2 separate regions of the Homo sapiens genome follow, and region 2 is linked to region 1. A link means that fine-mapping ties the variant in region 1 to the expression of a gene that starts in the linked region. Tissue or cell type: subcutaneous fat. Region 1 holds a variant in brackets; the other region holds the start of a gene. All regions are shown on one strand. Distances are between the middles of the regions.

The links. PIP is the estimated chance that this variant, and not a neighbour inherited with it, causes the effect.
Region 2: GOLIM4 starts here. The variant in region 1 is fine-mapped to the expression of GOLIM4 in subcutaneous fat (GTEx, PIP 0.93).

Annotation. Positions count from the first base shown.
Region 1 is chr3:167,937,191-167,945,381 of GRCh38, forward strand. No RefSeq gene overlaps it. Among named protein-coding and RNA genes, the nearest start is that of GOLIM4, 150 kb to the right of the region's middle. The variant G/GA (reference allele first, on the strand shown) is at 4,985.
Region 2 is chr3:168,092,218-168,100,408 of GRCh38, forward strand. It overlaps GOLIM4 (golgi integral membrane protein 4), which reads right to left and starts at 3,707. Exons shown (of 16, transcript NM_014498.5): 1 at 2,882-3,707. The coding sequence starts at 3,068. RefSeq lists silencers at 3,483-3,532, 3,823-4,062 and enhancers at 3,734-4,235, 4,433-4,482.

The DNA of each region.
Region 1 (8,191 bases):
GACTTATGTTTTAAAAGGTCATTGTGGCTGCTGGGTTGTGAAGATACTGCAAAAAGTATTTTTCCCGCACAATGTCCAGCTGCAAGGAAGTAAAGTAATTACACAATAAAAGGAAGTTTCATGACTTAATTCCTTTTCTTCCCTGTTATTAAGTAAATAGTTAATGTTTATTCAATAAATATTTACTACAATTATGGATCCATTTCTTTCTTTTTCCTTTCTGATCCAGCAACACTGCCATTATTACCACTACCACCCAGATACAAATGTCATAATCTGGAAAATGGACCAGAGTGGCCAATGGAAGACTTCCTAAACATCAACCATATTTACACTCTTTAATTGGTTTTATAGGGACTTGGCTCTAAAATAACTGCTTCTGCAAGATAATGATGGTATCAGAAGTGTCCTGGAAAAAAAACCCATGCTCTAGGTTGTGGTGCTATCAGTGTTTACTGATGTGTCAGTAATACTGCTCACTGATTCCTTTTCTCTTTTATCAGTAAGTTATTAACTACAATGAGCAAGCTGTTCAAATAAATATGGTATTTTTTCTTCCTCTTTTTTCTCTTTTTATAACTAGAGTCACGAATATAGATATTTACTCATATTAATTTAATTTCTCAAGATTGTGTGTGGGAGGCAGCTAAAGCAGCACTAGAGGGAAATTTGTAGTGTTCAATGCTTGTATTAAAAGAAAAACAATATCTAAAATCAATAATCTAAGTTTCTTCTTCAGGAAGGTAGAAAAATAAAAGCAAGTTAAACATAAGAAAGGCTGAAGAGAACAAATGTATTTAATATATGTGTGTATATAATATACATGGATTATATATAAGGTATTTTATATAATGGTGTATATGTATTATATATGTATGTGTGTATAATATACATGGAATATGTGTGTGGGGGGCTGTGGGGATGTATACACACACACACATATATATATATATATATCCTATCAGTCTGTTCCTCTGGGGAACCCAGACTAAAACTCATGGATTACATATAGATTATGCTAATAAGTATGTAATATATAGTTATAGAATACATAATATGTCATTTATATATCATGCAAATATATATGTTTGTGTTACATATATATGTAGCATAAATTATATATATAAATATGTATATTTATATATAATATATAATATATTATATATATTTATATATAATATCTAATATATTATATATAAATATATATATTATATATATTATATTTTATATATTTATATATAAATATAAATTTATATATATTTATATATATTATATATATATTTATATATATATTTATATATATTATATTTATATATAAATATATTATATATATATATATATAAATATATTTTAAAAATAAGGAATTGTCTCACAGGTTATGAAGCCTGAGAGGTCTCATGATCTGCAGTCAGCAAGCTGGAGACCCAGGAGAGCCAATATTATAGTTCTAGTCTGAATTCAAAGGCAGGAGAAGACTGATGTTTCAGCTCCAAGACAGTCAGGCAGAGTGAATTCTCCCTTACTCAGCATTTTTGTTATACTCAGGCCTCTAACACATTGGATGAAGCCTACACACAATGGGCAAGGCAATCTGCTCTACTTGGTCCACCAATTCAAATGTTAGTCTTTTCAGAAATACCCTCACAGACATACTCAGAACAATGTTCACCCAAATATCTGGGCACCTCCATGGCTCAGCCAAGTTGAAACACAAAATTAACCATTAAACCATGTTTTATTGAACAATCTGCCCAGAATAGTAAATGAAATCATAGTCATTCAACAAATTTGATAAGTATTTAGTAGATCTTATCATGGATGTGTTCCCATTGTAGTCTCTGGGTTTAGAGTAGTGATTAAAATGGATAAAACCCCTGCCTTCATGGAGGTGACATTAAGAAAGGTAGTTCATATTTCATAGGCAATGACCTTCCTTCAAATGGTCTGTTGAAGAATCTCTAGGCCTTTGCAAAGTTGTCTCATTAGACAGCATCCAAGCATTCTAGCAATTTAGTCAATTCGTCAACAATTACTTGCTGAATGAATGAATGTTAACCATGTTCTTCTTTTCTCATTTCTGAGGCCTGTGTTGTATCTGTGTAGTCACATGAATGTGTCTTACATCTGTGAACATCCAAGGCTCAATGCTGACCCAGCTCTTGATGGTCACTGCTGCCATCCTCTAAGATCCTTGAAAGGCCAAAGGGATCTTGGTTCCCTGGAGTCCTCAGATTAGGAAAGACATTCTATATTTCATGCAGAAGTGGAGATGGGTAGATGGGGTTTGAGTGCACACTCCCCAACTCTCACTCTTTGATGTTATGCTATGAAACACAGGTAAATAGAAAGGGCTGATTCTTTCCAAATAATTTAAAGAGCTGTTATTATAGGTTTATGACAAAAATTATTTATAATACCTGAATTAATCTTCTCCAGAGAAACAGAACTAATAGGATAGATAGATAGATAGATAGATAGATAGATAGATAGATAGATAGATAGATAGATAGAGAGGGGATTTATTATGAGAATTGGCTCATGCAACCGTGGAAGCTGAGAATTCTCACAATATGCTATCTGCAAGTTGGAGAGCCAAGGAAGCCAGTGGCATAGCTAAATCTGAGTCCGAAGGTCTAAGAGCCTAGGGGTATGCTGGTATAACTCTTAGTTCCAGGCTGAAGGCTAGAGAATCTGGAGTTCTGGTGTCCAAGGGCAGAAGAAGAAGAGAACTGCAGCTCTAGAAAGGAGAGAGAAAGTATTTGCCTTTTTTCTTTTCTCCTTTTTTGTTCTATCTGTGTCTTCAACTGAATGGATGGTGCCCACCCACACTGGGTAAGCGTGGCTCTTCCTTACTCAGCCCACTGATTCAAATGCCAAACTCTTCTAGAAACACTCTCACAGAAATATCCAGAAATAATACTTTACCAGATATCTGAGTATTGCTTAACTCTGTCAAGTTGACACCTAAAACTATCACAATTCCTAAAATGTATACGAACGCCAGAAAATTGGAAGAAGGTTGGGAGGCTGAGAATCTAAGTAACATAAACCATGCTATCCTCAAAATTACCTGTCAGGTGACATAGTCTTTGCCATTGAACCAGCCCCATATATCTGATTCCTCTTCCCTTTAGGATGATTTACGTCCTAGGAGGTGCTTCATTCCTAATATAAATAGATTTCTGGTGAACCAGTCTCACGTGTCCTCCAGACATGACTGGTCATGTTTTAGCTCCAGCAGGGCACTCAGGTGCAGACCACACTGGCACCCACACTACACACATAACCCGCTTGTATCTGCACTACCACCTCCTTGAACAAATCAATAATAAACTTGTTTTCTCTCCCTGAAGTTTTAAGACAAATGTGTTCAGTGTCTTGACATATGAGTAGAAAATTCAATCTTGTGAGTCATAAAGGATCTGAAAAGTTGGTTTCTTTAGAGGCCTTTAATTCTAAGAAGTTCATGATTTGAAAAATGTCCTCTGAAAATCTCTGCATCGAGCTTCCTATGTGATTAAAATGTAAAACTTATATTTCTAGACTTTGCTTCATCTTCTTTTAACGAGCCATACCCCGGCAGTATTTAAAGGCCACAACAAAGAGAAAAGTTTCAAACTTGATATCTCCCTTTCTGCCCATCATACAAAATCTGACTTGCAAAGCTCATAGCACAGAATCTCCTAATGCATGATGCAAAAGAAGTGTGACATATCAGTCTCCTTTCTGGCTTGAGCAAACTGCTGAAATTGTCCCTGCTGCCTTTTGGTTGTAGATGCTCCACTTGTGATAAGTTAACTTAGCACTTCCAGGTTTGTAACAAATTTCTCAAATTCTTTTCTTGCTAATAAGTTAACCTCTCCTAGTTATTTTGTGCTTACATGTTCAGTTTTATTGTGTTTTGTCTTTGTACTGAATTATCAACAATTGTCATTAATGAGAGCTAGGCATGGTTCTAAGACAATTTCTCTGATCTGCATAACAGCATAACAACTTGCAAGGCAGATGTTATTCTCTTGATTGAAAGAAATGTAGCTAAATAATAACTTTACTCGCTTTCCCAAGGTCACCCAACCAGAGGCTATAAATTGAGGTTTAAAAAAGTTTTTGCTAAATATCTCATAGTCCCCGTATGTCCATAATACTTAATGCAATAATGGATGATGCCATTACAGCACAACTGCAGTCAGAAAGAAAGAGCGAAATGTTGCGGTTTAGTTAATGCTTTGGAAAAAATGTTTTTAAAACTGGCCTCCACCCAGTTTCCTGTGTTCAACTTGCTGATACTGTTACTTCAGTTGGTTCATCATCTTAGTGATCCTCTTAAATACATTTTGTACAGAGTGCATAGCCCTTTAATCCATTTTTATTCTTTAAGCAGTCTCATTTTGGCATTTAAAGAGTCAGTATCAATTATTCCTAAAATTCTGCCTCTTTATCTAATATAATGTTCCTCTTTCCCTTTTCCCCTTTGTAGGCTGTCTAGTTCTCATGTGACTTGGAAAAGAGACATCATCTGCTTACATCCAGCTTCTTTGCGGTTTCCTCCAGCTTCTTTGTGGTTTCCCCCGCCCTCTCTGCTATTAGGCAGGAGGAAGGTTGGGGGAAGTCATTCACTATGGCTCAGAGACAGCTGGAAGCCCTCGTTTGTTCTTTATCACTGTTTCTTAACACTGTCTGGCCAACTGATTTCCATAAGAGTCTGGTTTCTAAATATTGGCTTTATCATGGGGCACAGGCTTCCTACTTCCCTCCCCTGCTCTAGGTGTTCCAGCCAGTTTGATCTCTTCCTCTGTCCCTGCTGTTCATTCTGCAATCTATTGCAGATGTGGTCTGAAAAAAATGGCTCTCTAGGGTGGGAGAACTAGTGGAATTAATCAACTCCATGATATTTTGGTGTCCAAAGGACCTCATTAAAATGACTATTATAAAATGACAATCAGGAAAACAACAACTAGAACATTTCAAAGACATACATTTCCAA[G/GA]GAAAGAGACAGGAGAGGAAACAACAATAGAAAAAGATGGCAACAAATTTTCCAAGAAACAAGGTAACTCAATCTGTAAAACCCCAGACATGCAGGAATTGGAGTCATCTGCCTGATGGGAAGTGTTCAGAGTGGGGCTAAAAACAGGTGGATCTGTGGAAAGCATTTAGATGTGGCACTTAGACCTTCACACCAAATGTATATACTGCATAACCAGACGTATACTCCCTTCTTTTCCTTGGCAGAAAATTCAAGGTTCAGCCTTGTAGAGATAAGACAACAGATCCAAGGACATCGTGTACAACCAAGGCAACATATGAGGCATGAAAACATTATATTAAGAAGAGTGGTACTAAGAGAAAGACATAGATACACACCATATTAGTCTGCTCAGGCTGCCATAAAAAAACGCCACAGAATAGGTGGCTTAAATAACAGAAATTAATTTTCTTACAGTTTTGGAGGCTAGAAGTCCAAGATCAAAGTTCAGAATGGTTGGTTTCTGGTGAGCATATAAATATAGAGGAGACACAAACATTCAGTCCATGACACCCTCTAACCCGTTTCATTTGCATGGCTCTCAAAATACCAGAAATAAGCCTCATCTCCAAGAGCACAGCAATAAAGATTCCCTTCTGGGGAAACTCAGTAGCCTAACAAAAAAGACCTATCAATACTCACTTTTGGAGAGCTTCTGATGCACCTTATAGTAAGCTCACACGTAGATAAGTCCCACCTATACGTGCAGAACTTCTAATCAATATTCTAGTGATTATTTCTTAAATATGAGCAGACGTTAAAGGCTCATCAGGTATTTATGCCTCTGATGCAAAATAAAAAAGCCAAAACAAACAATGAAATTCTAGGAGAAAGAGACAATTCAGGGAATAGAATAAAATATAAAAGGAAAAAATGTATAATTAACTCCCACAGAGATATAAAATAAGTGTTTATAAAATAAGAGCAACAAGCTACCACAAAGAGATATTGAGAAAATAATAAAAGAGCTTTAGAAATGAAAAATATGCACATATAAAAATCTGTATTGGTTTGGGTTCTTCAGAGAAACCAACAGGAGATACACACACACACACACGAAGATATTTACTATGAGAAATTGGCACACACAAATACAAAGGCTGGAAGGCTGAGAATTTTCAGGATCTGCACTTGGCAAGCCGGAGACCTAGGAAAGCCAGTAGTATAGTCCCAGTTCAAATCAAAGGTCTGAGAACCAGGAGAGCTGATGGTGTAAGTTTTAGCTCAAGTCCAAGTTTGAAGGCAGAAGACCAATGTCCCAGCTCAAACCCCGTTAGGCAAAGAGAGCAAATTCTCTCTTACTTAGCATTTTACTCTATTCAGGCCTTCCACACATTGGACAAGACCCACTTACACTGGGGAGGACAATCTGCTTTACTTAGTATATTAATTTGAAAATTAATCTCATCAAGAAATACCCTTATGGATAACCCAGAAATAACGTTTAACTAAATATCTGGCCAACCAATAGCTCAATCAATTTGACATACGTAATTAACCAAATACACAATATATGTGTATGTATGTATAAATATACCAAAAATAAAAATTTTAATACGAATTCTGGAAGATAGAATTAAGGACATTTTTTAGGATCTAGCTTTTTTTAAAAAAAAATAAAACTATGGAGAAATTTGAAAATTAGAGTATGGGTATAAGAAGTCTAATGTTCAAAACAGCAATACTCAGAAATAGAAAATGTAACACAAAATTTCCAGATAGAATGCATCTCCTGAGTTTCCAACATAGTGAAGGAAAAAAGATCCACACGAAGTAGAGACTTAAGAAATTCCAGAACACCGAGCAAAGAAGTAAACATGAAAGCGCTACAGAAAAAAAATCATTATTTTATTAAAAAGGTCAGAAATCAGCCTGGCATTGGTCTTATTAATAACAACACAAGAAGGTAGAGGAAAATGGAAAACACCTCTTCAAAAATTTAAGAGGAAAAATATATTCAACTTAGAATTCTTCGCCCAGCCCAAATTAATCAGAAATGAGGGTTAAACAAAGAAATTTTCTGACTTGAGGTATCAAAAATTGTACTATCCATGTATCTTTTCACAGAAAGCTGTGGGTGAATTTAATGATGATCTCCACCAAAATAAAATAAGAATGTAAATAAAGAAAAAAGATAAATGGCATATTTGTCAAACTGAGATCTTACACTCATGGAGATCTTACAAACTGGGTGAAAAGGTAAGTTTGATAAAGGAATAATAGGGTAGCCTGAGGCTAGCAACTGTGTGAAGCTATTACAATCATTAGTCCTAAAAAACAGGAACAGGAGCAATTACCAAATACGTGAGTTTTCCAGTAAAGTCTACCGGGCAAGAGATGTGGCCTTTAGCATTGGACACAGTCAACCTGTAGTCACTTCTCAGGGCACAAGCTAGAAGAATAAGTGCCTCAAACTTACTCTTTTCGAAGCTGCCAGCTCCAGCCAGCATCCATCATTGACATAACCCAACAAGAAACCATAGAAGTCAGTACCCTGGGCAAAAGGAAGGGTGAGAAAAGTTTGAAAATAGACCCAAGGGGACAAACAGAAAATATCTCATATATACCAAGAAACAGTGAATCACGCAATAAAGACTTCCCAGGAAATGGTGAAGAACAGTCCCAGGCAGGTTCACTTTAAAATGTGTGTGGTCTGAGACGAAAGTACATTTAACCTCCACAGCTGCACCCCAACTCACAAGTCCAATATTCCTCCAATATTGTGTTCCATTTCCTGCATGATTTTTTAAGTGGAGAAGAAGAGAAATCTGAACACTAAAATAAAAGGCCAACTAGTATAATTGGAAGGAATGATAACTAAAAGAATTCACACTGCAAGAAATGAAGCAAAGCAATATCATGTACCTCCCTGAGAACACAAAATCATTTTTATAAAATTTTTACCACAAAATATTACCTGAATCTAATCGTGAGAAAACAACAGAGAAGGCCATATTGAGGAACATCTTACCAAACAACCAGCCTGTACTATTCAAAAATATCAAAGTCATAAAAGACAAAAAAAAAAAAAATTAACCAATACTGAGGAAAATTATCTATTGGCAGTGACTAAAAAGCAATTATAAGTAAACACAGCACATAATCTTGGATTGAATTTGGACCAGAAGAAAAAAAGTTTGATATAAAAGCATTATTGGAGGATTCTAG
Region 2 (8,191 bases), 160 kb after region 1:
GCCACCAGTATGTGACCTCTGTCCCACTCCTCAGTATAATTAAGGTGCCAGTATGGGAGATAAATAGATGACTGATTGCTAAGAGGGATAGATAAACAGGCAGACATAGATATTTTTATAGTGGAAGGGGTTTGCCTAGTCTCTGACCTTTCTGCATGCCATCCCCACCATCTTCTAGTTATGGGGCTCTTCTACAATAAAACTTGTTAACTTGGGGTTACAAGTAACCCACTTTCAAAGGAATCTATGGAGTATAATCTATTCTTAAACTGAAGGTGACCTAAATACGCTCACTTAACGAACGCACATCATCAGATTATAGGTCTAAACTACTGAAATTTTTTCAAGAGTCATTTTTAAAAAGACCACTCTTTTTAAAGTCATTAATTCTGATCTTAATCCAAGCCAGGTCAAGCAATCCCACCTAACTAAACAAGTATTAAGACTGGAGAGCCTGATGTCCTAAAAGCCCATCTATGCAGGTGGTACACAGTGCTGTTGAGTAAAATGTCATTTGTCTTGGAAAAGGGAAGCAAAAGTTGCATACCACCAGAAAATGTACATTAAATGGCTTACACATGGGAAATCCAAAATAAATGCTACTGAAGTCAAAAGTGAATCCACAAAAAACAAAAACAAACAAAAAAATACTTTAGCCTGCTTGTGAAATAATTATTCATGCACAATTATACTGCAAGTTTTGTAGCACCATAATTAGAGAGGAAATGACAAAAGAATAAATTAAGAAAGGGACTTTGAAGCCACTTATTCAAATTAGGTAGAACATTTCCATCTGCTGCAAAACAAAAGTTGTATATTTTAATGATCCTGTATTACCATTTACCACCTCTCTTCCCCACTACCACCACCACCACTAAAAAAAGAAAAGGCAAATTAGAAAAGAAATTTCTAAAATTTCAAAATGAAATACTGCAAATAAAGGCCATTATTCAGAAATTAGGGCCTCAGTCAACAATATCCATCGTCCATCATAGGCCGTTGAGGCAAAGGAGCTACTTGAACAAAATATTTTCTTGTTTTATTTGGCTTTCAAAAAGCAAAGACACAGAAGCAAAGTCTCAGAAAGACAAAAGTGCCTGGGATGAACTTACTCGCCACAGTTCAGAATAATTTTTGTTTGTTGTTTGAATAAACATGCATTGATTCCCCTAATGAGTGTCAGGCACAGTGTGGTGCTGAGGAGGTAATGGTGAAAATGACAGCCTTTGCCCTCATGGGACTCCTAAGAGACCAAGGCACACACAACCTCATATAATCCACCATACATGCCCCTTCCAGCCATGTTTATGAAAATCTAGTCCTGTTATACTATTAGACGGTAAATTTTTCCCTTGGTCTGACTCCATGGAACTTCACAGGGAAGCAACTGATACCTTGTAAATAAATAAGTAAACAAATATCCATATTCTCATACCAACAATAACTCATGGGTAAATTTCAATGAGTTTAAAGAAAATTTTGTGAACCTAAGAGCGTATCAAAACGGGTTTTACTTTTGAACCAAGCCGAGCCATATATTTTCATTGCCTGTGGCTATGCAGCGTCAGTAAGCTAAAAATACTTTTCTTTCTTCTAAGTTGGGAAGAGCAAGTTAAGTCCAAACAATCGGATGTGTATCATTTTCTCTCATCTTAAATTTTTTACTAGAAAACACTCAAAATAACTGAAGCAAAGAAGAGGCATCTGTTTCATATCTGCACACACATACACAGAAACATCCCTCTAGCTTGCATCTATCTACCTAGCAATATTAAACAAGCTATATTTGCATCATCAGCAAAGTCTGCCAACATTTCACCACTTACAGCTATTTATTATTATTTTTTGGTTGGGGAGAAAGCTGCATAAGTATTGAAAACTAACCACAAGTAAAAGCTTGCAAAAAAAATATGTATAGGATACGTCCTTAACAAGAGGACATGGTGCTGACTTTGAATTTACGTTAAAAGTAAATTCAAATTCAAATTCTGAATTTACATTTAAAGTAAATTATGTTTGTGAAAATTACATTAAATTAGATTCTAAAATAGGATAGAAACTTTAAGTTCTTCTACAGGTCTTGCTCAAGTTGGGTTTGCTGTGCATGGCAAAGTGAAAACCTGTGTTTCTCCTCTTTGGCTTCCCGAAGCTAACTGTAACATACATGCATCTCTGTGATGAAGTAAAAGCTACTTAGGAAGACAAGTAAACCTGTTTTTAAAGAAATAAACTACTGCAGGATGGTGAATGGTATGTAGTGTGGACTTTTCCCACACATCCAGCATCTCTAAAGACATCCTATTAAATTAAAAGAATAAGAAATAAGAAACTAGCAGGTCCAGATCTAGGTTCCTTCCATTCGACTGGGCCATGACTTTAATTAAGCTGCTGGGTCATGGCTTAATTTTCCCTTGAAAAACAGCACAGTTTGAGAAATCTCTGCCAAACTCTTCATTTTTTAAGCAACTGACAAAGTCAACAAGAAAGCAAATACCTAGAATCCACGGAACAATGCTCCTCAGAGCAGGGCTGGCAGAAGCGGCGGAGGGCTACCAGTTTCCCTGCCCCGATTGCAGCTGGGCCTTTGACAAGAGCTCGGGTAAAGGACTATCTGTGCACCCGCCCACCAAACGCCCAGCGGGACGATGGGCTGGTGCTACGAAGTTCTAAACCTAACCGCTGGGAGGAAGAAGCGGGAGGATGAGAATGTCATCTCCCCTGACACTCTGGTGCCGGCAGTCCTGAAACGCTCACCTCTGACGTCCCTGAAGGTCAGAGGTGGCAACCACAGTGCCAATAGCTCACCAAAGCCACTTTTCCTGCCCGGGTGGAGGCGCGGGGCAAAGTTGGCCACCGGCTGCGCGCGTCCCGTTAGCCGTACCTTGTAACTGGGCGGAGAGGGACTCCTGGTGCTGCTGGTACTTGAGCGCCACCGCCTCGGCTTTCCGCAGCTGCGTCTGCAGCTCGTAGTAGAGCATCGCGCCGTAGAGAAAGCCGAACACGACGGTCAGCAGCAGCAGCGTCTGGAAAATCCGCTTCTGCTTTCGGGAGCACATCCCGTTTCCCATAGTCCCGCCTGGACCCAAAGCCGCGGCCGCCCCCGCCGTCTCCTCCCCTTGGTCCGAGCGAGCGTCTCAGCAGCGGCCGCCGCAGTAGGTGGCCAGACGCAGCATGAGGAGGAGATGCCAGACACAAAAGCCGGCCCGGAGGGGAAGTGGCGCCCGCTCAGCCCCCGCGCGGCGCGGGGCGCGCAGCCATCGACGCCGCCCGGGCAGCTGCAGCCAAACTTCTGCGAGGCTCGTTCTCCGCGAATGCCCGGGGCCGGGAGGAGGCCCTCCGCATACTTCAGAGCCGGCTGCCCTCGCGCCTGTCCCCAGATGCCTCCTGCCTTTTTTCCTTCTTCCCACTTTTTGGCCCCGCTGCCCCCGGGCAGTTCTTGGAGTCCCGCCCTGGCCACTCCCCGCCCTATCGCGGCGGCTCCCACTGCACGACTTTGTTGCCACCTAAGGGAGGGGGTGCGCGCCCAACAAAGGGACCAGGACTCCGGGCCGCGCCCCCGTGCGGCCTGCCCAATGGGTGGAAGGGTGGGGGCCAGCTGTCTCGGCTGGTTTTGGGGACGGCACAGCGGTGTCACTGACGGGTCGGCTGGTGCCTCTGCCGCCCCGCCACCTCCTGCCCAACTTACGTGTCACCCACGGCCCGGCTATTCTGGCCAACGGGATTCCGGGAGGAAGTCCCACTCGGCCTCCTTGCTCATTGGGCCCGTCCGAGCAGACGCTCCCTCCCTTCGGGGAGGCAGTGCCGGGCTCGATTGGATGCCGGCTTTGTCCGTCCGACCCCAGGGCCGCACCTTCCCTCCCAGTGCCGGGGCCGGCTAGGGGCTCTGTGGGCAGCGCGGCCGCCTGGCGCCGGGGTGCGCCCACGTGGAGTCGGAGAGGGTGGGAAGAGGCAGGCGGAAGGGCGAAGGGCGGGGAGCTTTGGGTGGGCGGGGGACTTGTCCGGGCCTGAGTCTGGGTGAGGTTCGGTGAACACGTGTGTGTGTGTGTGTGTGTGTGTGTGTGTGTTCCAGTTCTCGTTCGGAACGCACGTGGAGAGCGGAGTAAAATGTGTGTATGAACGAAAGAATGGATGGCAGTAACTGTGTGCACTCTGCTGAGTACACTTTCTTTCCCTGTCCAATAAACTGATGCGGCAGACACATGGGATAGCTACATAGCACAATCCCGGTAGTCAAACCAGAGATGCCATGTCGACTGCCTTACCCCATCCAGTGTACTAGCCTAGATGTGTGTGTGCCCACAGATGGCCCGGCAGGAGTCGGGAGACTGGAAGCACGCTAGACTTAATGTTCAATTGTCCACGTGGGCTGGGGAAATCGGCTTGCCATTGGCAGAGAGGAAAGAAATGGTCTCACATTTCTCCTCTAGCTGCAAATAGAATAATTTAAAAACAAATCGTACAGACTGAAATGAGTATCCATTCATTTTGTCATATGTATTTGTTTTATTGGTGGCAAAACACATCAGTTACATTTCTAAATTACATTTTAAAGGGCAACAAAGGTTCCCTATGTAAAAACTAGTACAGCACAGGAAAGGTAGTAACCACAAACCTCTTCGAAGAAATGTATACTGCATTTATTTTTTCTGTGTACTTGAGGGGAATAATTAAGGTTATGCACAAATGATAATTTTTGTTTCTGCTGTTGACCTGAATTCTAAGAAAAGTAAATTTTATCTGTCTGTATAGTGTGGTGTAATTTATGATACACTGCATAATTTTTATATTCTAACTGGACTTTAGTCGTTACCATTGCTAATGGGCCTGAGTGCTCAAAATGGGGGTAAATCTCTTTAGCTAAATGCAACAGAAAGACAGTTCCTGGTGCAAAAGTTTTTTTAGGTGGACTCTGAAATTATAGGTTGCTAAAGCCCTAAAATAAACTGAATTTATAACGATGCTACCCTGTGGCATTTATACCACTGTAAAAATAAAGTGTGTCTTGCATGTGCTTTTCCTTAATAAATAATAACTTGCGTTAAATTATTCAAAATGCTTTCGTGTGCAGATACACTGTCTCACTGATCACAGCCAGGGTGTTAGACTTTCATGTTGGTAAAGAAGCCAAAGTTTATCAAAGTGACTATGACAGCTCTAGGACCTTTTAGGTCTTGCATAAAGTTAGTTACTCAGCAAGATTAGAATCCAGATCCAAACCCTGCTCTATGTCTTTTTCTTCAATAGAAACAATGTTCTCATTCTATTAAACAAGTTACAGTAAGAAATTATATCTCCATTAACATGAGAATCTGATTGTAAAAGAAAACAGTCTAAAGGAGTTTGGGAGTTTTGTTGTGTAAATACTACATAATCTTCCTTATTATTAAATCTACCACTTTAAATTCCTCTTTTTTAGTTTGACTCTCAGAAATTAACATTGGATAATTACTGGAATCTCTTTAAAATTCCTCATAACTAAACATTCCTTACTGTTGTCAGAGTACTTTGTTAAACAAACTCTTCCTCCAAAAACACTATCCAAATTTAGGCTGGGCATGGTGGCTCACTCCTGTAATCCCAGCACTTCTGGGAGGTTAATGCGAACAGATCGCTTAAGTTTGGGAGTATGAGACCAGCCTGGGCAACATAGCAAAACCCCTCCTCTACAAAAAAAAAAATATATAAAAATTTAGCTGGGCATGGTGGCGTGCACCTATAGTCCCAGCTACTCGGGAAACTGAGTTGGGAGGATCCCTTGAGCCTGGTAGGTAGAGGTTGCAGTGAGCCAAGATCACACCACTGCACTCCAGCCTGGGCGACAGAGGTGAGACTCTGTCTCAAAATAAATAAATATATAAATAAATAAAGTTTATGGCAATAATCTTGCCCCATATTTGAAGAGAAAATTATCCTAGCCACAAAAGAAAAAGAAGTTGTATAGAGGGTTGGAAAATTATTGCTCATATATTGTACAATATGTATTTTAGAATCTTTGGAAAATTCTTATGTTTCCTGAATGTATGATTCATCTTAAACCTCTGATTCCTTTGCATCTGATTCCAGACTCCAAAGATATTCTTTGCCTAAAGCTGCTGGCTGACTCTACAGAACATAATAAATGCAGGCCATAAAACACAACTCAATATTTTAGTCATAAAATTTGAAAGACAGCAAAAATTATTACCTGAACTTATCCATTATTTCAAATTCAAGAAGGGTATGTAGAAGTACATAAAATTACTAATGGTGGTATTTTTATAATATTACATTTCCAAGGTAAAGTATGCTGCTAGTTTCCTGAAAATGTCAGTATAGAGCTTTTGAGCGGCCAACATGAGGAAGCTATCCAAGGCCTATAAAATGAATTTACATAACATTGCCTTTGGGTAGCAATTATAACATAACAGCTGTTTATACTGGTCTTGGAAGGTGTGTTGTTCATTCTATTTTATTTTTGCTTCTTTGTTATTTTAAAAATAGTATATATAATTATATTTCTATATTCCATATATTTAACAATATATTTAACTTTAAATTATAAACCCTGAAGAATTTTACTGATTTAGTATTTTATTTCTGAGGCAGGAAGAAATTAACTTAAAGATACTCAAGGTCTTACATTTGAGAAGGGCAAATATAACATTTGGGAATATTAATTCTCTCTAACTTAAGTGAATTTGTCATTTTAATCAAATTTGTTCATTTTCAAAATAAGGGAAGGAAAAAATAAAAAGTTGAGAGAGACAGCTGACGTATAATTTCTAAAAGTAAGATTTTAAATTAATAATATTTAGGATCCTAGAGTAAATAATTTCTATTATCTAAATCTTTTATTTAAATTTCTTTACTACAAATGGAACTCAATATTTTGTAATTTGTAGGAGAAATCATCACCTAAGAAAAGGTGATGAATAGTAAATAAAATTTAAAATAGCTTTTCAGTATTAATAAACTAATTTTAATCTTTTCATCTGACAATTACAAAAGTTATTTATCCTATAAAACAATCTTCACTCTATGATGTCTTCACCTTTTTGCCATTTCATCAGTTTGCTGTCCCCTAATGAATACACTTGCCTTGCTGATTGCCACTTTTACCTGACCTGTTTTGAGAGGTAAAGAAAGCTGCATTCAAGGTATTATGTCTTTTTGAACATTTTGTGAAAGATGTTTTGAGACTCCTTTTTCATAGGATTTTGATAATGACCTAGTAGTAATTGTTAGAAGATTAACAAACTAAAAAGTAGGTCTGTGGTTGAATGCATAACTGAGTAACTGAACCCCACTCAATGTATCTTTATGCCTTGTTTACATCTGTCACTACGTTGCCACCTTTGTAATTTTCAACTATATCTGAAGAGGAGGGCAGAGGAGAAAGTAGATGATTTGTTCTTATTTATAAAAATGCTTTTCAATGAGAGAAACCTTACCATCAATATCACTAAGAAATACCTTCTGAGGCCGGGTGCGGTGGCTCACGCCTGTAATCCCAGCACTTTGGGAGGCTGAGGCAGGCGGATCACGAGGTCATGAGATCGAGACCATCCTGGCCAACATGGTGAAACCCTGTCTCTACTAAAAATACAAAAATTAGCTGGGCATGGTGGCGTGTGCCTGTAGTCCCAGCTGCTCGGGAGGCTGAGGCAGGAGAATCGCTTGAACCTGGGAGGCGGAGGTTGCAGTGAGCTGAGATTGCGCCATTGCACTCCAGCCTGGCAACAGAGCGAGACTCCATCTCAAAAAAAAAATAAATAAAATAAAATAAAAATAAATAAATACCTTTTGAATACAGACTACTAATAATGGACGTGATTTAGAAGTCCCTATTTGCCACAGGATGTGTAGCTAGTCTAAAGGAAGAGGAACTATCATTTCAAACCTCTAACAACATTCTAAAGCAGGATATCTAGCCAACCCTAAACTTTTCCAAATTCTAAGGCAGTATACGAAATCATTATGAATATGTTGCTTAATGTTTGTTACAGCTAGCATATAATGAGCTAACTACCACATTTTTTTTTCAGTTTAATTTCATAGGAAGTTAGAAAGAATGGAAAGGGAGCATATGTGAGCCTCAGAAGTGAACTTCCTAAATCTTCCAATGGCTCATCCAGCTTCTCACCAACTCACTGCCTTTAATAGTCAAAGACTTTAGATAAGCAGAGATACCACAGAAAAGATCAGTGGCCAG